5 separate regions of the Homo sapiens genome follow, and all the other regions are reported to be linked to region 2. Evidence: microRNA targets listed by miRTarBase, many of them from high-throughput screens and not tested one by one. Region 2 holds a microRNA gene; each other region holds the end of a gene's coding sequence. Distances are between the middles of the regions.

Region 1 (4,114 bases), 8.7 Mb from region 2:
CGTGACTCCACCTACTCGCAGCTCTCCCCCAGACACTACTACTCAGGGTACTCCTCCAGCCCCGAGTACTCATCCGAGAGCACGCACAAGATCTGGGAGCGCTTCCGGCCCTACAAGAAGCACCACCGGGAGGAGGTGTACATGGCCGCCGGTCACGCCCTGCGCAAGAAGGTCCAGTTCGCCAAGGACGAGGATCTGCATGACATCCTTGATTACTGGAAGGGGGTCTCCGCCCAGCAGAAGCTGTGACCCCCCCCTTCCTCCCTGGTGAGGTCGGAGCCAGAGGGCTGGGGGCCTTTTGGGGGAAGGGTCCAGGCGGCCAGGGCGGGGAGCAGACTCGGGGGCCAAGGCCCAGGAGAGGACGCACATGCAGACCCGCACGCACGCACGCACACACACACCTGACCACCACCCGACTGTGAACAAACCAACATCCGACAATAACGGACAGGAAAACAGAGACACATTTTCCTTAAAGTTTACAAACTGATACCGAAACCAGTCGTCTTTACTGTGCTGCCCAGGGACTCTGCTGGGGTGTGCAGGGCCGGGGGGCTGGCGGGGGGAGGAAGGAAGCCAAGAGAGGGTGTGGGGTCTGGGGGGTCTGGGGCTAGAAACAGGTGTGGGGGTCAAGAAAGCTGGAGTAGAGAGGGACTGAAGCCCCTCTAGGGCAGGGAGAGGGTCCCTTCCCAAGCTGGGAGTCAAGTCACCTGCAGATTTAGCATTAGACATCGGGCAATGTCTCCTTCCACTTTAGAGAGGGGGGGAAACTGAGGCCCAGAGAAGGGAGTTGACAACCCCAGGGTCACACAGCAGCTTAGCCTCAAGTCCCCCAACTTCCCAGCCCAGTGCTGTCCCGGAACCCCCTGCAGCTCTCTTGTGGACCCCTGCCCGCCCTGTGCCCACCCCACATCCCTTTCCGAAGCTGTGGTCCCTTGGGGCTGAGGGACTTGGGAATCAGGCAGGTGCTTTTTCTTCCTAGAAAGCCACATGGCAGTGCCCCCAGAGTGTGCAGCTGTGATTCAGAATCCTGGGGGGCTTTTGACCCCTATGCCGGCACCCGGGAGAAGGGAGAGGGTCCTGTTGACGGGAAAGGAGCCGAGGCAGGGCGACATTCCACCAGCCCACTTCAAGTGTCTTCCACGTGGCCTGGGAAGAGTGGGGCGTGTGGCGGGCAGGCCAGCTCCCAGGACGTCTCAGGTGCAGGCTCCCGGCCCCAGCTTCTCTGGTCCTCCGAGACCCCTGCCCACCGCAGAAGGGCAGCGGTGCACTGTGATGCCTGGAGGGCTGCAGGGAGGAGCTGTCATGGGGGACTTCCTGCCTGTCCCCATGGCCTGTGTCCCCACCTGCCCGACCCCATCGTGGGATCTCGGCTCCTATCTCAGCCGCCCACCCGGGGAAGGAGGGCTTTCTCACCCATCCCCTCTGGGCTGCTCATCCAGGCCTGGCCCCCTGGCCAGAGGGGCTCCCATGTTTCCGTGGCAATGGCCACTTCCCTCTTTCTGACCCCCCCACCCAACATCAAACAAAGCACAAACAGTGAGGCCCCCACCCGAGAGAGGGTTGAGGAGCAGGCTGGGTTCGTGGCGCCCCAGCCCCTCCCAGCCAGCCTCTGTCACCATGGTAACCCTGTGCCTGGCAGTTGGTGCCCAGAGTGACCGTTGGGCTCTGGGGTTCTCTGTCCATGTAGGCGGTGGCAGAGGGTGGTGAGGGAGGGCCAGCCTGGCAGCAGCTCCTGGGGCCAGCTCTTTTGGGAGGCAAATCTGCGGTCCTGAGACTGGGGTCTTGACCAGTCAGGATGCTGATGGGCCGGAGTCCATCATCCTTCACCTCTGGGTGGGAGCTGGCCCAGCGGGGTGTGGGGACGCCTCTACTAGCAGCTTTGCCCGCCTAGCAACATGTCGCTTGGCTGCCACCCACCTCAGCTTGGGGGGCCCCGGCTCTCCCCACGCCCCTGCCAGAGACCCCCAGTCTAGGGCCTGTGGCCCACATGGGTTTCCTGAGATTTGGGGAGTGTGACTGAGGGGCGAGGGTAGGCACTGGAATGGGTCCAAGACCGGCACTGTTGGTGGGCAGGGGCTCTGACCAGGAAAGCTAGTGCCATCCCCTGGGGACCCCAACGACCTTCCTGCTGGGGGCAGGGGGTGAGGGAGGACAGCAGAGGGCTAGGAGGCTCGGGCTCAGCTGAGTACCTCTCTCACACCAACTTTGGGGTTAACGAAGCCCAGGGCTCACTTTGAGGGTGACATTTGCAAAGAAAAGACTGTTCTCCTGGGGCGAGGAGGGGAGGGGGCGGCATGGATACGCGGAGCAGACCTCCTCCCCCGGCCCCCAAAACCTGCCCCCCAACCCCTCCTCACACCCCCTTGGCACAACTGAGAAAAGCAAGCAGGCAGAGAAGCCAGGGGTGTGAGGAAGCAGACTCCCTGTTATATTTGCATGACGATTTTACTGTATTTTTCTGAGCAAACATCTGTCGTGTATGTGCCAGTTTGTCCAGACTCCCCCGCCCCCTCTCTGATGCCCTGCTTTCCCACATTCTGTCTGTTGTGATCTGACGAGCAGCTCTTGAAACCCAGGGAGGGGTCAGCTCTGCAAAAACAGACCCAAAACAGGTGCCACCAAGACACAGCCCTGCCCCACACCCACCTCCTGTGTTTCTGAGCATTGGGCCCATGTGCCACCTCCCTTCCTCCCTCCCTCTCTCCACTGCCACCTCCCTTGTCCCCAGTTCCTTCCCCTCCTCCATGCCAGGGAGGGCAGCCCCAGGGAAGCCTCCTCAAGGGCTCTTGTCCCGGTGGAAGGGACTGTCTGTCCGTCCCGCTTGTTCCCGTTTTGTAGATGAGGAAGTCAGGGCTCCCAGACGGGCCTGGTGAATTGGCTGGCCAGCTGGGGTGGAGGATCAGTCACACTGCTGAGTGTAGGAGGCCAGGAGCTTGGGGCTTCGTGGGGGGCTTCAGGGAGAGGGTGGGGGCTTTGAGAAAGGAACCCGTGGGAAGAAGGAGCACGCCTGGGCTGGGCCCCAGGGAGGGTTCCCAGCAGCAGGAGTTAGGGGCCTGCGCTTGCCATTTCCCCATCCTTTCTGCGTGAAGATATTTAGGAAACCTCAGACTCTCTGACTGCAGGGACAGGGGCCCTTCCAAAGAGCAGGACTCTGATGATCCAGGAGGGGAACTGGCCTTGAAGACCCAGTTCATGTGGTTCTTTGTGAGGCAGAGCGGGGTCTAAGACTCGGGTCTCTGGCCTCCCAGCCAGGCCAGAGCCCCAACTGCTCAGCTTGGGGAGAGCCCACCCGGAGGCTGGCCTGCATCTGTGTCCCACGTCCTGCTCAGGATGAGTTTTTCCCAGGCGGGAGGGAAGTATTCACAAAATGTTGCCATCCAAGGTCTGGGTTTGTGATGATGATGAGCATGGTGGAGCTGGGCTGTGGTCTGGGGCAGGCCAGCAGGGCAGACACCAGGAAAAGAGGGCAGGGGGGGCCACAGGGAGGGAGGGGAGATGGAGGCCCGGTGGAGCGAGGGATGTGTGGGTGCCACGCCCTGGACCTCTGCGGGGAGGCCTCCTGCCTTGGGCCGGAACAAGGTCACACCTGGGCTTGCCTGCCTCTGTTGGAGAATCTCCTCTGAAGCTGTTTCTGGGAAGTAGCACAATGGGTCTGCTCCTTCCTGGGAGGGCACAGCAGGTGCAGCTAACCCTCTGTTGGAGCTTATGGCCTTCCAGTAGCAAAACACAGAGGTCTGGCATGAAGGCAAGAAAGCCTGGTTGGTGGGGAAACCTCGTCACGGGTCCCGGCCTTGCTTTTCCCCGCGGCAGGAAGAGTCTCTCTCTGCCCACCAAAGAATCCCTCACCTGGGCTCCCCTCCTGAGGCAGTGCAGGAGGCCTGTGGGAGCAGCCTGTGTCCAGGCTGGGGAGCCCGTGTCTGGGTAGGTCTGGGAAAAGGGCTGTCAGGGGAGCGAGGAGGGTGGGAGTAAAGAGACCTGCTTGGGAAGGCCAGGCCTGGATCGTCCCCGGGAGGCAGCTGGGGCAGCAGCAGTGGGGAGTATCAGGCTGGCCGAGAGTCACCCATGTTCTCAACTGGAAGTTGGTCGCCTGCCCCACTCCCTCCTGGAAATG
Region 2 (4,096 bases):
AGTCGTATCTGCCCCCTCAGCTTTTCCCCAGGAAGGTGGTAGCCACAATTAGCATTTGTTGAGGCTGACCCTGCACCAGGCCCAGGATAGGCGGGGCTTAGGGAGGCCCGTCTCTCGCCACGTTCCCCTGCTAGGGGAGCCCCGAGGCCCTCTCAGTGTCATCCTCATGCTACACTCTGTCCCAGCCCTGTGCGTCCCAAGCTAGGGCACTGAGTGTGCCAGCACCCGCAGGGACAGGCACTGGACCCTGGGTGGACCTGAGGGTCTGTGACTACCCCCCCAGCTGCTCTCCCCTAGAGGCCACTTCCCTCAAGGAAGGAAAGAACCTTCCCGCCACCTCCTGCAGTGCGGTCAGCTCAGGCCAGCCTGCACAGCAGGGCCAGAACCAGGGCCCCTGGGGAGGGATGCCTGCCTGCCCAGTGGGAGGAGACGGCACGCCCGTGAAGCCGCTACTCAGCCAGCCTGGGGGCCACGAGTGCTGCTTCTGGTGGCGCTGTGCGGGGAGGGAGGGGGCCGAGCAGGGTGGGCACTCGCATGCCTGTGTCTTGCTGGCCTTCGACAGATGACAGCCCTCCTCCTAGGGTCTCCAGTGCAGAGTTCCTTGGGGACATTATGGCCACTCCTGTCCAGATGAGAGGGAGCCGGCTGCCTGTGACAGCGTCGCAAAATGCCGCCAGGGCTTTCCCTCCCTCCTCCTTTCTCTCTTCCTCGTCCCTCTCTGGTTGGTGGTTTCCTGCAGGCTCCCGTCCCTGCTGGTGCTGGCCACAATGTCCCCACTCCCAGGGTTTCGGCGTCCCAGCCCCCTGCGCCCACCGCGCCTGCCCGCCAGAATCCCTGTGCCCTTGGTGCGTGTGGCCTGCCGAGCCTCGAGCCCCTGTTCTCCTCAGCCCTCTTTCCTCCCGCGTCCCCAGGAGGTGCCTCTGGAAGCCACGGAGTCCCATCGGCACCAAGACCGACTGCCCTTTGGGGTGAGGTAGTAGGTTGTATAGTTTGGGGCTCTGCCCTGCTATGGGATAACTATACAATCTACTGTCTTTCCTGAAGTGGCTGTAATATCTGCGGTGGACAGAGCGTCTGGAACCCTGGCTGGGAGCGGGCAGGGCCAGGTTTGGGGGCAGCCTTGGCAGCAGTCGGGGGCAGGGGCCGCCTACACTGAGAAGTCTGACAGGCCTAGGTGCCACTTGCTGTGTGACCTTGGACAGGCCCCTGATCTCTCTGGGTCTCAGTTTCCTCCTCTGTAAAATGGAGGCAAATGAGGATGGAAGGAGATGCAGTGTGGAGCATCGAGGGCAGAGGAGAGCTGAGCCGACCCCACCCTCTGCCCCAGCCGCACTGAGAGAGGCGATCCACGCAGCTGTTTGTCTGACCTCTGTCTCCCAACACTCCCCAACACTCCCCCCGCCATCAGGCCCAGGCTCATGGGTGGCCCTGAGCCGTACCCTCCACTGAGCACCAGGAGAAGGCACCGTGGGGCCAGGGGTGGCCGAGACGTTTGGAGGTCACAGGGCTGCGAGTATTGGCGTTGCCCATCACCCCAGGTTCCCAGCACGTGCCCCAGCCTGGCCAGCTCAGTGGCAGGGCCTCTGCCTGTGGAGGAAGGGAGGCCAAGGCACCTTTCCTGAGCAGGAAGTGAGAGGAACAGCTCTGCATACACTGGGTCCCACATGGCACAATCTGAAGGCAGACAGTGGCTCCTCTGTACCTGGGGAAACTGAGGCCCAGAGAGCCAGGGACTTCCCAAGACCAGCCAGCAGCAGCTGCCCCTTCCTGGGGTGCCATCTCCCCTGTCCCTCCTGCCCTGCGCCTGCCCAGCCCTCCTGCTCTGGTGACTGAGGACCGCCAGGCAGGGGCTGGTGCTGGGCGGGGGGCGGCGGGCCCTCCCGCAGTGCAAGGCCGGGCCTGGCGGGGTGAGGTAGTAGGTTGTGTGGTTTCAGGGCAGTGATGTTGCCCCTCGGAAGATAACTATACAACCTACTGCCTTCCCTGAGGAGCCCAGTGACACGACCCCATGGGAGGGCCGCCCCCTACCTCAGTGACACGACCCCACGGGAGGGCTGCCCCCCACCTCAGTGACCTGCAGGGGGCCTGAGCCGAAGCTGGGTGGGCATCTGGGAGCTAGATTCAATAAAGCTGTTCTGACCATGAACTTGGAACTGGCCCCTTTCATTCTGGAAGCCCAGGGACTGGGCTCTGGGGCGCGTCTGCTGCGGGACAGTGTGGAGGCCCCTGGCCACGAGCTGTTCCAGGTCATGAGACTTGTCTGCTCACGCCTCCCGGTGCCTCCAGAGTCCTCAGTTGGCTCCGTGCTGTACCCTGGGCTCAGGATCCCAGGCCCAGCCCGTTCTCTGCCCTCTCGTGCTGCCTTTGAGCCAGGCGGGCTGAACACCGGGACCCAGGCCCGGTGGAGAGGTCCCCACGGGGCAGCCACCAAGGCCCCAGGTCAGCAGCTCAGAGCACTGCCAAGTCCTGGCTCCTGAGGCCACCTCCGTGCCTTAAGTGCCTTGACCAAAGTCTGGACGTGCCTGTCCTTCCGTCCTCCCTCAGGACAGTTTCCAGGGCACCCGTAATTCCTCTGACAGACTGCCATCCCAAAAGTGCACCCATTCTCCTGGGAGGCCTCAGGCCCTCGTCTAGCAGCTGCCGTAGGCTGGGCCCAGTGATCCCGCCCTGGGCATGTGGGGTGGGCTTGTTCATGCCTGGCCCAGCACCGAGAGCCCCTGGTGGGGAGGGGCTGATACAGCTGGGCCCACACCTCCCCCACCCAAGTGCCCATCCTCGCCCCTCCTGTTGACCCAGGCCACAATCTTGGCCCAGATTCCCCCCTGTGCCCTCCTGGCCTGCCTTGGTTCTGCAGGCAACCCCAGCCCTGCATGGCCACGTCTGGGCAGACCGGCACCCCTACCCTGACACCCATCTGTGCCAGTCCTGCACGGCAAACACCTCAGAGCCCAGGCCTGCCTACCCTCCCGGAGCTGCTGCCACCCTGTGGGCCAAGGGCAAAGGGACGTGGAGGAGGGGCCCAAGGGCAGGGAGGGCTTCCTAAAGCAGGGACCATCTGAGCTGGGTCTTGACAGCTGCGTAGGAGTTTGCAGCTGGAGATGAGTGACGTGCCCCATGGTCCCTTCTCCCATCATCCTCTGGGGCCAGAGTGGGTGACACATGGGCACTGTCCAAATCCCCTTCTTCACCCCATAATTAGTCAGCAGCCACATCTGGCCACTTCTGTCCTCTAAACACCATTTCCATCCCTCCCCACTCCCACTGCCAGGCCTCAGAGTCTCAGAGCAGCCCCCTCTGTCTCCGGAGCAGATCTCTGCTGACACCCTTGCCTGCACTGCCTCCCAGCACCCCTCCCTCATGCCTGTGCTCACCTCCACCAGGACTCTCCTGCTCACCACCGCTCCCCCACCCCTCAGTCCACGGCTCAGACCCATCTCTGGCCACCGCAGCCCCTGTCTGTGTCTGAACAGACTGTGAACGTCCCGAGGAGCCAGCCTCTCCTCCCAGCCCCCATACTGTGTAGTTGGAGCAGGGTTTGGCCCTGCAGAGCTCAAGGCCTGGTCGGGGAGCTGCCAGGGACACACAGTGGCCATGTGTTGGGGTCAACATCACAGTGGAGCAGCCCAAGGGCTGGGGAACCCTAAGGATCCCTGGACCCAGCCCTGCAGTCAGAGGCAGCTTCCTGGAGGAGGTGATGCCTGGCTCACCCCACTTCCCTCCCTACCCTCCAGCTGACCAAAACCTTCCCTGCTGACTGGCCGTCCCTAGAGATGGGGTTGCCAAAACTCGCCCAAAATATAGGATGAGGGCAGCCTGTGGAAGTTCTGGGGGTGACAGGCCTAGATTGGTCACTCTGCTCACCAAACCTGTTTCCCATCTCGCAGTGGGGTCACCGTAGCTTCCACCTCCCAGGGCGCCCATGAGGATTTAAGCTGATACCAGATCAGAGTGCCCAGGGATGTGGATGAGTTGCCTTGAGAACAAAGTCCAGGGAGGAAAGCCGGGGACCAAGGACCTTCAGGATGGCCCCAGCTTCCCGGGCTGTGCGGGAGCCACGTGCCACGGACCCCTCCCAGCTCAGGCAGTACCGCCAGAG
Region 3 (4,114 bases), not on the chromosome of region 2:
TCTCACCATTGTCTTTGCTATCATTATTAAAAACTCAAGTTCAAAGATTGCACTGTTCATTATTTAAAAACAAAACAAAACAAAACAAGAGATAGTGTGGGATAACAAGTGCATCTTCCTACTTATCACCTAACAAAATAAACAATAATCAAGACTGAACCACAACAGGTGATTGAACTACTTAAAACATATAGCAGTGGTTAATTTCTATAATGGACTCTATTGCACACTAAGTTTTTGAAAACATATTTGCCCCCCTCACATCTGAATGCGTTCATAAGATCTTGGTTGTGAATTACTTCACGGCCTTAGATCTCACTAAACCCTGGTTACTTCATCATGTTCAAACAGAATTGAAGATCTGCTAAGAAATGTATAGTATGCTCTGCTCTTCCTGTAAAGGGTTTAGATTCAGCCTCTGGTGTCAAAACAATTCAACTGCTTTTCAGTTCAATCACAAATTAATCGTTTGCTTCACCAGCTGGTAAATTCAAAGTATCATCAATGTCAGCTTATCTACCAGAGGATATCTGTTCTGTGGATCTTACCACCTCTACTCCACAGCTGGGCTGAGCCAGGATGCTGTGGCCAGAGAAAGAGGAGAGCATTGGAATATGTTTCTAACCAAACATCCACGTAGAAATGATCTTTAAAGTTGCCATTATTTTGTATTATCAGTCCCCTGCTTTTTCCCTCCAATATAACGAATCATGCATTAACTGTTTCAGGTTCTTTAAATTCTTTATATTGAAGATTTGAAGATACAAAATATAGCAGTTTTACTTTTACAAATCTATAGACTCTCGTTCCTTTTATGGCTGGATGGCTACCAGCTACTCTTACTTGGAAAATCCTAACTCTGTTGAAACACTAATTGGCATTCTTTTGTAAACCCTTCCCTTGTGTTAGGCAATTTTCTCATTTAATACCAAAATAGTCTCATCTCGACTCATTAATTTTTAAATCACAAACCATCTAGTCTTTTGCCATTGAGGTATGTGGCCATTTGATGCTACTGACAGTCCTCCCTATACTGGCTGTATTTGTTGCTTAAGCATGTCCAACTGTTAAAGTGGCAATGGCAGAAAGAACATTTTCCTTCTCCTCAAGACAAGAAACTTCAAATGTCAAGGTGCTGAGCTAGCAGTTGAGAGCTCTAGCTGCAATTAGCCAACCTTTGAGCCAAACCATAGGACTGGACATATAGTGGATACCATATACCATAGCTACTTCTAGCATACAAGCTACAAGGATTCCTGAGAAGCTGAGGTTAATGAATGAGATTGATCAGGAGTGAGGTATCAAAGGGATATTGTCATTCTCTGGAGGGCCAATCGGTGCTTAGCATCTACAAAGTATACCTTGGCACAGTGTTATCTGATTTCTCTAATTTATTCTCTGAAGTAGCACCTTAACACTGGCTCATCTGTCTAAAATCAAGAACAAAGCCTAGAAGAAACACAAAAGCAAACTTGAGACACCCTCCTTATCGCTACTGCACTATGAAATATGACCAAACCTTTCATTGTCATTAAATACCAGAAATAGTAACATTTTCTGTTTTGCAAACTTTAGTGGGGAAGGACAACTAATAAGACAGGTATTGGACCAGAAATGTACAGATAAGAACTTTGATTTCTACACAATATACAGGGTAGTCAAGCCAAATAGTCTCATATGAAGGAATCAGTGACATGGAAAGGACAAAATATGTGGTTACTGAGCCATTACTATGATACAACATACCCCAGAAAGATTTTTTTCTTTTTCATTAAAATGCTAGAGTGATCTATTCACAAGGAGAAACTCTAGCGACTGCCTTGATTATTTTAAAGATAAAAATAAAATAACCCTTGGCTACCCAGTTCTGAGCAAAAAAAAGAATTTCAGATTTTGGAAAGACAAGAACTATGGGTAAAAACGTCCTAGAATCAGGGATCAGCAACTCTTAAAATGAGGTACACTGAAGTGTTTGGGGGTAGAGGGTTGGTGGGAATATGCAGAATGACCGCTGATTCTGGGCTGGAAGGATGATGAGAAGTGCTAGGAACAGAGCTATAAAATCATCCAGGCTGAACTCTTACCCCGGCAGTGAAATCTCACTGCCGTAGGCATCCAGTGTGGAAATGGAGGCATGGCAGCAGCAACTGGGCCACATGGCAAAGGAAATGGCTGTGTGTCACCTCTGGTCCATGTGTTGTGAGACTGCTGAGCCTTGGTTTACAATTTAACTAGCCCTGGGAGTTATTTTTTTTTGTAGTAGGAATGATTAACCAGGAGCAGCGCTCAATCCCAAACAGAGGATTTGGTACTAAGGAGTAAGAAGTGGAACAGAATGGAGGGGGAGTAATTGCACACAGGTAAAACTACAGAAAATGAAATAGTGGTTGGAATGATGATGGTGGCTCTGTAATTCCACCAAGTGTCCCCAGAGTGTGATTTTTTTTTAACTGCAATAAAGGTGGTATGAAATTGAGACAGGCACCTTTTCAATTGGATACAAGCACCTTTGGTGTCACCAGGCCTTGTCCATACCCCTGTGTCTTAGGATGGCTCTGCATTTTATTTAGAATTCTAAGGACTCTTGAGGGAGTCACAGCTGCCTATCCTGTTCCAACACCTTGAATATATTTGGAAGCATCCCAAGCCTAATTCATGATCATGGGGACAACACACTGGCCTGTTACACATACTTATCGCTGGGAGGTACAATGAGTGTCCAGTTATTTTAGTACTGGTGGTCTTTACAAAGGAATGCATGAGGATGCATATGCAGTTCTGAGTCTTCCCTGGTTTACCAGTATGCAGTCTAGACTTGGTTCCCTTTGCTGTTTTTACATATTCCAGAAGCCTAAAGCACCATCATTCATGGAGGTGGCATCTGGGTAAGAGAATTAGTTAGGACCTCACAAACATGTGAAACTCCTAGTCATTGACTTTGCTTAGAAGTTTACTAATTATTCATTTCAAGGAAGCTGGAAGAAATCATTCCTTGCTACTAACAAATTCACGGCAAAGTCCTTGTCTACCAGCTAACAAATGCCACCTGGAAAATTACCGTTTTTGCAGACAAGGAGAAAGCTCTATAACTTATCTTTGTGCACTTCAAAAGAGTACCAGCAACAAGCAAGCTATAAAAGTCAATCTCTCTAAATTCATTTAGAAGAGATTAACCAAAGCAGCATTGTCTTATAATCAGAAATTAAAATTAACATAAACATACACACATAACAAACTAATAATGCTAAATATTGTAACAGGAACAAGGATAACATTTGAACTGAATCTTCACAGTCTAGAAAATACCATTACTCTTTTCCTTCTGGCTTTCCTTTCTCTGGTTTGAAAAGCAAAGCCCCTTAGTTTACACTTCGTCTTCCAGTAACAACAGTTAGATCCCAAAAGAGTGACTTTTTCGTCGGTTTCCTACAGGTTATAGGTCAGGACGGTTGGAATTTCTCTTGCATAGTTTTCAGTGATTGCATATTGGCTAACTACTTTTTAAGTTAAAAAAATCTTTTAAAAAGCAAATATAATTAAACCATAGCAATCTTATTTATTCTTTCATGATATCTTCCTAATGTAACATCATGGAAGCCTAACTATAATTTCTCCTAAAGAGAAAATTAATTTCCAGAGATTATGTAGTGCAACTGGTTAACTTGTAGGAAAGAGACAACACACTAATGTGACTTCACCATCCAAATATGGAAAATGTGTTTTGGGTACCCAGTTAATACAACATATCCATGGTCTGTAATGTCCTTCCCGCTTTACATCCAGAACTCTATGATTCTAGTTGAAGAGAATGGAATCAGGATCTTGGTTCGCCATCTGTGCTATATGCTTTAACACATCCTTTTTGGTAATGATTCCAAGCAATCGCCTAAAAGACAAACACAATACAAAAAAACAAAAATAAATCTGTAGTTAAAATAGCATTCCCAAAGGTGATACTTGTCCTCCTCAGTCCTTTTCAACTTTGTCTTTGATCACTAGCTGCCCTTTCAGTATGAGATCACAGGAGTAGGACATGTGCCCCAGGCAAATAGGATGATGTGTGGATTCCTAAATGTATGCAAGTGTTTCTACCTCTAGGTCTCAGACCCTGCGA
Region 4 (4,095 bases), not on the chromosome of region 2:
GGTGCGAAGCTCTGACCCAGGCCACAGTGCGGATGCACCTTGAGGATGTCACGCTCAGTGAGAGACACCAGACACAGAAGGGTACGCTGTGATCCCACTTCTATGAAATGTCCAGGACAGACCAATCCACAGAATCAGGGAGAGGATTCGTGGGTGCCGGGACTGGGGAGGGGGACCTGGGGGTGACTAGGTGACATAATGGGGACAGGGCTGCCTTCTGGGTGATGAGAATGTTCTGGAATCAGATGGGATGGCTGCACGGCGTGGTGAAGGTACTGAACGCCACCTCACTGTAAGACGGTAGATTTTGTATTTTACCACAATAAACAAAACAAAACAAAACCAAACCAAACCCAACAAACATCCAGAAACCTCCTGCCCTGCCCTGCCCCTCCTCTGGCTGGGCCCGGCCTTGGGTGGGGGCGGAGCCTGCACCCTGGTCTCCGCTTCCCCTGCCCTTGTCAGGTCCCCACAGATACGACCCTGCCTTTCCCATCTGGACACGCACCCAGGAGCTCCACTCCCTCGGCGTAGGTGCCCAAGTCCTCCCTGAGGCCCACAAGGCCCTGCACGCCCTGCCCTCCTCTCCTCACTCTGTTCCTCCCGCATACCAGGTGCCGTCCTGCCCCAGGGCCTTTGCATGGCTGTGCCCTTTGCCTCTCACCCAGGCGTCCCTGCCTTCTCCAGCCCTGGCTGAAATGCCAGGCTTGTGGTGAGCCTCTGATCCAAGGCCGCCCTTCCCCAAGGCCCCCTCCCCACCCTTGTGACGCCACCTCCTCACTTCCTCATAAGCTTCTCTGTCTCTGGGCTGTGTCCCCCATGCCAGCTCCACATGGGCCAGGTCTGCTCGGTTTCATCATCTCCAATGCCCAGGATGGGGCCTGCCCCAGCTCCTTCACCCTCTTCTCAGGCACCGCGCAAGAGCGAGCCTCAAAACCACCTGGGGCCTCCTGGCTGCCAGGACCCCCACAGCCTCCCCTGCAGCCCCCGGCCCCCCGGCCTCCTGGCTCCCTCAGCCACTTCCCAGCCATTCCTCCTGTTCTCTCCGCCCAGACCCCGGGGAGGCACCAGCACCCCCTGGGCCAGGCTCCTGCCTCCTGCACCTCTCATCGCAGAACCTATGGCAGCCTGAGTTTTTCAATTCTCTTTCCCTCTCACTGCACCAGCTACATTCCAGGATCAACAGAAAAGTTGCAGCCCGCCCTGCGGGGCCCTTGGTCAGCCTCCCCCTCCATCTGGGCGTCTCCCAACCACTGCCAGGGTCGCCCCAGGAAGCGATGGCCCCACTGGCCTTCGTCTGCCTGTCGGGTGGAGCTGACAGCAGAGGCACCTGCCCCAGCGCTGCTGAGTGGCCCCCGTGCCCCGCAAAGCCTGACGTACACTCCCCTGGGGCCCCTCCACCTCCTCTCAGCTGTCCTGGGCCATGGGGAACCAATTCCCCCATTTCTACACGAGCCCTGGCCCATCATCATGGGACCCTCCCACCACGGCCTTCACCCCCCTTGCTCTGTCCCTCCTGGCCCCATCTGGCCAGCCCTGGGGGTGAACTCAGCCCAGCAGTGCCCACCCTCCCTCCCTGATGGTGTCAACCGAGCACCTCCTCCCTGGAACAGGGCCGTCCAGCTGGAGCGCAGGGACTTGCCTGGAGTCCAGTCCTTGGCCCTGCAGGATTGTGGCCGGCGCCCTGGCAGACGGGCCTGGGAGGCGTCTCTGCGGCCTTCGAGGGCTGAGCTCCCCATCTGTGAAATGCAGGCCTGGGAAGCCCCTCAGAAGCTGCTTCTGCAGCTCCAGGGCCAGATGGGGACTCTAGGGCAGGACCGTGTGACCCCACCCGAGCCGGGGACCTAGAGCCAGCCAGTCCCGGCCACACATGAATCCACGTGTTTAATGACAGCGTCACTGCATTACATGAGAAACAAGGCTGGTCTGTCCTGGGAGCTCCCCCACCCCCTAGCATGGGCAGAACCAGCCCCAACACAAACCTCACGCCGTCCGCCTGGCCCTGCGGCGGTTCCCAGTCCCAGGAGGAGCCTCTGAAGGCCACTGTGGGTTGTGCACTGAGCCAGCCAAGCCCTGACGCCCACAGCGACAAGGCGGCTCTTTGGCAACTGCGGGCAGGGGCGGGCATGGGCGAAGGCAGGGTTGGTTTTCTTATTTAAAAACCTTGAAACAGTAAGACCGTGACCACTGGAAATCCACACTGCCACGTGCACCAGCACCCCCTGCACAGGCGCACAGTGAGGGGTCCGCGCCCCACCCAGACAGAGGTGGGGAGAGTCTCTCCAGTGAATGTGGAAGATCGACCCGCTTGAAATGACGGGGCTTTAAAACCAGGACCTCATCCCCCAGGAGCAGTGGGTGGGTCCTGGCCCCTCCCCGTCTAGCCTCAAACATTTCCAGGACTAGTCAACAAAAACACAAAACAAATCCAAAGAAAAGTCACAAATACATATGTACACATGCACGCCAACCCCACTGGGGACAGACACCAGGATGTTGGGATGTGGGGAGTGGGGAGTGGGGGTTCCCAAGCACAGCAGGGTGGTGGGTGGGACCCTCCAACCCCAGCCCGCCCCACCCTCTCCACGTCCCCACCGATGAAATGGGAAGGGGTGGTGGGGGGGTGAGGGGGCAGTGCTCAGCTCAGGCCCCACTCCCCTGCCTTGCCTCCCTCCCTGCCTGCTGTGCAGCCTGGGAGCATGAGACAGAGAAGCAGAGGAGCCTGGGAAGCTTCTCGAAGGATGGAGGGCGCCCACCTCCTGGACCCCTTGGGTCTCCTTGGCTTCCCCACGGCTGTTGGCGCTGGTGGACAGGACAGGTGAAGACACAGGCAGCCTGGGGGCGGGGGCCACACCGCTGCTGGCCTCCACAGGACCCAGCCACCCAGCAGGCATGGGGGACGCAAGTCTTGCGCAGGGAAGGAGGACGCTGGCCCTGTGAGGGCACGTGTTGGCGAATGCACGAAGACGTGGCATCTGTTGTGCTCCTCTCCAGCCAGGGCAGTGAGCAGGTCCGGGTTCAGTTCTCCTGGGGTGATAAGTCCAGAGCAGACATCCTCCTCCAGTGTGAGGGTGACGCTTGGCCAGGATGCACAGGCCCATCTGAAGCCCACTGACCGCCGGGCGATGGCCATGACACAGATGCTTCCAGAGAGACTGCTGCTTCGAGCAGTGACAGCAGAGGTGGCTGCAAGGATGCCGTGAAGCCCAGGTGGGGACTGTCTCTTGGATCCACAGGCTGGCTCCGCCAGTGGCCCCGAGCCACCTGCCCAGGCCTACATGCCTTGGTCTGGCCTTGGGGCTGGTCTTGGGTTTGACATGGTGGGGTGCAGCCATGAATGGGCAACCGGGGTCTCAGGCCCCCACCAATCAGCCCTGGCGTCTGGTGGTCTGTTCTGTGCAGACGTGGGCAGTTCCAGGAAGAGCATGCGGCTCCGGTGGGCAGGTGATGAACAGACGGAGGCAGTGAGGGTCCCAGGGGGCATCCGTCGCTCTGAGTACAGACGGTCTGAGCCGGGACCGTCCAATGTGGTTCTCGCCCTTTGGGAAGGGAGACAGAGCCCCTGCTGCTGAGGGTCCCCGACCACGTGCCCACCCCAGATACTGGTGGACATGGTTCACAATCAGGCATTTAATGAGACTCCAGGATCCTCCAGGCCCAGCTCCCCGCCCGCCCAGCCGCCTTCCTCGGGGGACAAGCGCTGGGAAGGCAGAGTCCATGCAAGCTGAGGAGCTGGGGTCCTCCGACTCTGGACAGCTGGTGTGGCACGGTCCTGCCCGGCAGGTTTACCGGATCCTGGTGAAGAGGTTGAGCACAGACACAGACTCCTGCAGACACATGGGGATGGCAGATGCGCTGAGCCGCAGGCCCAGGGAGGAAGCTGCCTGGAGGGTCCCCAAGGCTTTGGGGCTTGGTCCTGAGGGGCTGGGAGGTGCCAGTTCAGCCTCGGCCTGCCACACTGCCCCGACACATGACCCAGAATTTGAGGTGAGGGAAGCTCGGAAGTGGGGGAACCCAGAGGAGGGTACGCCCGAGGACAGTGGGGACAGGGACGACCCTGGGACAGGCTGGGGCGGGGGCGAGTGGCGCTGATAC
Region 5 (4,114 bases), not on the chromosome of region 2:
GAAATTTTGGTAACTCAGCTCTACAGCCTTCAATCAAAGCAAAGTACTGACAATATTGACTGTACTATCACCCGGGTCCTCAGGGGACATCACTAGGGTAGGGGTGGAGGTGCTTTTCAATCCCCAGTGAAAGGAGGCCAACTTCAGAGAGTGAACGAGGACCCCCCAGCATGCCAAGTCAACCCATACGTGGAACAACAACATGTACAGAGAGCTCACCCCAGGCTCACAAGACAAGGACCCAACAGTACCTCTGCAGGGCACAGAGGTGGAGTGAGTCACAACACCCAACCCTGCCTGGGTCCCTGTGGACGTCGGCTTTCATTTTCTCACACAGCTGGGAAGGACACTGCAGCCTGAGGCTATAAGGGGAGTTCACAGCTGCTGGGCACACTATTTACAGACTCAGGAATCCCGGAGCAGGGCGTCCACTCGCTGGGTCCCCCACTACTTTCTAGTCCTGTCTCATCACCCTCTTCCCCACTGAGTTCAAAAGGAAGTTTCTCTGGTGGAGTAAAGGTTGGGGTGAGGAAAGAAAGGAGAACCCGGCATCCCGTGGGTGAAGGCCATCTCCCCCAGCAGGAAGCCACGTAAGATCTGACGCATCGCTGGGATTGGGGGCTGCTGTGGACACGGTGCATCCACCAGTAATAACACTGACTCCTCGGGCCAAACACCCCCGCTGGGAGTACAGATTTTGTGGACGTGGGCAACTTCAGCCCAAGACAGAAGTGGTAGGGGACTGTCCTGGGTGGGTACCCTCAAAGGAGAACCTGATGCAGGGATTCTTGTGCAGGTGAGTGAGGACGTGGTGTCAGAAGGGATGAGGAAAGCAGGATAGAGCTGAAGGAGAAACAGAAGGATGTGCCCGAGTTCCCCGAGGTTGGTAGAGTGTTCTGGGGGATAAGGGAAGCCCAGAAAAAGCACAACGTGTGAGTGTTCCACCCCAATTAACCACCATTACACAAAAACCCAAACACTCTATCCTTTTATTCCTTCCCAGGCTATTGCAGGAAAAGTCTTGTTTCCCAAACGCTGTGCCTTTCTCCTCTTGCCTTCAACCCTGGAGGGGCCCAACTACACAAGTGGCTTATTTGGAGAAGGGAATGAGGTTGAATAAAGAAAGCTCAGCTTCCAGAACACCACACTCTCTTGGTTTTCTCTGACCTTAAGGTAACTCCTTCTCAGTCCTTTGGCTGATTTCCCATTTCCCAGAGAGCCCAAGGGCTCCATCCATGGCTCTTTTCTGTTGCTTCTCAGTAATACTCAGAGACAATCTCAGTGGCCCCTCCAGCTGCATGGCTTTAAATGCCACTGACATGCTGATGGTTCAGTAGGGGGCGCTGTGGTGCCCTGCCAGATCCCTTCACACAGCCAGTGCCCAGGACCCCCACCCCCAACACACTACCATGCATGGTAGCTGCCAGATGCCTACAGCCTCTTTTCCAGAGACTTGCCCTCAACTGAAGTCACTTGCCTTCAAATGTACCCACACTCCCAGAGAACTTCTCACAGCCAATAAATGACTGATAAAGGCTTTCACAGGTTCCTTCTGAGAGCACCCCCAACAATAAACCAAGTGCATTCAGATCCCTGTCTCGAGCTCTGCTGCAGACCTGACCTGAGAGAACTCTCCACTTTGATTTGCAGCCAGAACCTCCCATTCCAACCACAGACAGCCTGCTTTGCACCAAATTCCATACTTACCCAGCCCATCCTTCCCTATTTCAGTAACTGGTAACTCCATCTTTCCTGCTATTCAGGCCAAAAACCTTAATGTCATCATTAACTCTTCCTTCTCTTACACTCCACATTCAAACTCTCAGCAAATCCTATTGGCTCTTTTCAAAATAAATCTAGATATTTGACCACTGCTGTTGCTGTGGCCCAGGCCCAAGCCTGGAACCTTGCAGTAGCTTCCTAACAGGTCTTCCCTCTTCCTTCTGCCCTTGTCCACTAAAGTTTTTCACAATATGGCAGCTAGAATGACCCTTGCAAAATATAAATCAATCAAGGCACTCCTCTGTTCAAACCCTCCAGTGGTTCCCATCTCACTTAGCAGAAGCCAAGGCCCTCCACCACCTGTCCTCCCCAGCCGCCTCTCCTTCCATTCTACCCCTGCCCACGACTCTGCTTGGTCTCCCTGCTCTTTCCTGACCACGTAGAGCAAGTTCTCACTTTGGGGCAGTGCACATCCTGTTCCTCTGCCTGGAATGCCTTGTCCAGGATCCACTTCCCTAACGTCTCTGCTCAACGTCACATTCCCAGTGAGGCCCCATTTAAAACTGCAGCCTCATCTCCAGGATTTCTTACTCCCTCCCCTGCTTTATTTTTCTCCACAGCAATTATCACTACATGATACCTTGTATATATTTATTCCTATGTATTGGCTATCTCTTTCTCCCTGTAGAATGTAAGCTCCATGAGCACAGGGAACTTTCCCTGTTATTCTGTGAAGTATCTCTAGTTCCCAGGTCAATGCCTAGCACACAGTAGGTACTCAATAAATATTTACTGAAAGAATGAATGAAACTAGACAGCTCTGGCTTTCTTCCTTTTCCAACTCGGAGACTTATAACTAAGCATTGTCCTCAAATGGGATCGGCCAACCGTTGTAATTTTGGAGATGCAAAGTGGGGCAAAAGCCACATTTCTGCACTCTACACTCTCTACTCAACTTGTTTTTCAGTGGGTGCTAGAATTGGTACAAGTCAGACCAAGTGAAGACCATTGTGAGGCTGGAGAAATTTAGCCTATGTCTTCCACCATCTTTCCCGGATGGGGAGAAAGGAGACTAAAATCTGGAAAAGCAAATAAGCCAAAGGAGGTTTTCACAATTATCATCTTCTAGGAATGTTTTTCTTATTTAAAAAATAATACTGATTTTCTGGGAAAAACAAAAAAACAAGCCAGAGAAGACTGCCCTTCAAACCAAAATGGTAAGAAAGGCAGCTATGAACATGGGGAAGACAAGTGTGAACATGAGGAAGACAGGGATGAAGGTGTGAAAACAGATGTGAGGATAAGAAGACAGGTGTAAAGGTGAGAAAGAGGCCGGGCATGGTGGCTCACGCCTGTAATCCCAGCACTGTGGGAGGCCAAGGCAGATGGATCATCTGAAGTCAAGAGTTCGAGACCAGCCTGGCCAACATGGCAAAACCCCGTCTCTACTAAAAATACAAAATTAGCCGGGCGTGGTGGCACATGCCTGTAATCCCAGGTACTCGGGAGGCTGATGCAGCAGAATTGCTTGAACCCAAGAGGCGGAGGTTGCAGTGAGCTGAGAACGTGCCATTGCACTCCAGCCTGGGCAAGAGAGCGAGACTCCATCTCAAAAAAAAGGTGAGAAAGATAGGTGTGAACATGAGGTGGCAGGTGTGAAGATAGGAAAGGCAGGCTCACCCCTGATGACATGCAGTTAGAGAGACGGGGGCTTCCCTTTCACTTTGGAGAGTAAAGAGAAGGCTCTGAGGTATCAACAGCCTGGGCTGTTGGGAAAAGGACAAAGAATCTGTGTTTCCTGAACGCCAAGAGGAAGTCTCTTTGGTTGCTGTGGGCTAGCTGGTCTCCTCCAGTTCCAAGAGGTCATCCACATATTCCACAACTTCTCCCTGTAAGAGACAACAGGACAACTTTATTAAATGGGCTATTGGACTTTTAAAAGTACTGATGAGCAGAAACAGTATCCCGAGAGGCCATCACCACTGTCTGCTTTGGCTGAAACAGGTTTTTTCTGCTGGTCTGGGGCCCAGAGGACCTGATTTCTCCCTGTGGAGGGGACCTCGGCTTCCACTCCATTTGAACTTGGTATCAAGTGCTCTGCGAGATCCGCCAACATGCTGTGTGAGGCGGACAGCCCAGCCTGTGAACAGCTCTACTAAGTGGCCCTCCTGTGTGCATCTCTGCCTACTCCCCTTCCTCCCCTCTCATGTGTGCAGGTCTCCCACAGGAACATTTTCTATCTGTTCCCTTTCTGCCTTGACCACCAGAACCCAAACTTCTCAAGGACCAGGGGACTGGGTTGATTTTTCTTCCCCAGAGTCCAGCACACAGAAGGTGCTCAATACATGTGTTGAAGGATGAATGATTGAGTGCTTGCATACATACTGCTGGT

Evidence for each region. The annotated mature microRNA hsa-miR-4763-3p reads AGGCAGGGGCUGGUGCUGGGCGGG and lies in region 2 at 1,842-1,865, shown strand. An mRNA with a match to its seed (bases 2 to 7 or 8) in the 3' UTR can be bound and repressed. Matches are read on the target gene's strand: a 7mer-m8 pairs with bases 2 to 8, a 7mer-A1 pairs with bases 2 to 7 and ends in A, and an 8mer does both.
Region 1: the mRNA of ELFN2 is a reported target of hsa-miR-4763-3p. Seed matches in the 3' UTR shown: 7mer-m8 at 886-892, 7mer-m8 at 1,241-1,247, 8mer at 1,953-1,960 and 7mer-m8 at 2,633-2,639.
Region 3: miRTarBase lists CLCN5 as a target of hsa-miR-4763-3p. The part of its 3' UTR that is shown has no 7-base or 8-base seed match.
Region 4: miRTarBase lists FZR1 as a target of hsa-miR-4763-3p. Seed matches in the 3' UTR shown: 7mer-m8 at 2,136-2,142 and 7mer-m8 at 2,114-2,120.
Region 5: the mRNA of CRTAP is a reported target of hsa-miR-4763-3p. Seed matches in the 3' UTR shown: 7mer-A1 at 3,370-3,376.

What each region holds. Positions count from the first base shown.
Region 1 is chr22:37,369,207-37,373,320 of GRCh38, reverse strand. It overlaps ELFN2 (extracellular leucine rich repeat and fibronectin type III domain containing 2), which reads left to right. Exons shown (of 3, transcript NM_052906.5): 3 at 1-4,114. The coding sequence ends at 249. Among named protein-coding and RNA genes, the nearest start is that of ELFN2, 56 kb to the left of the region's middle.
Region 2 is chr22:46,111,783-46,115,878 of GRCh38, forward strand. It overlaps MIR4763 (microRNA 4763), which reads left to right and starts at 1,784; the gene lies at 1,784-1,875. It overlaps LOC124905135 (collagen alpha-1(III) chain-like), which reads left to right. Exons shown (of 2, transcript XM_047441696.1): 2 at 1-2,146. MIRLET7BHG (MIRLET7B host gene) reads left to right here. Exons shown (of 5, transcript NR_110479.1): 5 at 1-2,146. MIRLET7A3 (microRNA let-7a-3) reads left to right here and starts at 967; the gene lies at 967-1,040. It also overlaps MIRLET7B.
Region 3 is chrX:50,091,901-50,096,014 of GRCh38, reverse strand. It overlaps CLCN5 (chloride voltage-gated channel 5), which reads right to left. Exons shown (of 15, transcript NM_001127898.4): 15 at 1-3,886. The coding sequence ends at 3,796. Among named protein-coding and RNA genes, the nearest start is that of MIR502, 79 kb to the right of the region's middle.
Region 4 is chr19:3,534,527-3,538,621 of GRCh38, reverse strand. FZR1 (fizzy and cell division cycle 20 related 1) reads right to left here. Exons shown (of 14, transcript NM_016263.4): 14 at 288-3,827. The coding sequence ends at 3,786. It also overlaps a transcript of MFSD12 not described here. Among named protein-coding and RNA genes, the nearest start is that of TEKTIP1, 2.6 kb to the left of the region's middle.
Region 5 is chr3:33,141,892-33,146,005 of GRCh38, reverse strand. It overlaps CRTAP (cartilage associated protein), which reads right to left. Exons shown (of 7, transcript NM_006371.5): 7 at 1-3,611. The coding sequence ends at 3,558. Among named protein-coding and RNA genes, the nearest start is that of CRTAP, 30 kb to the right of the region's middle.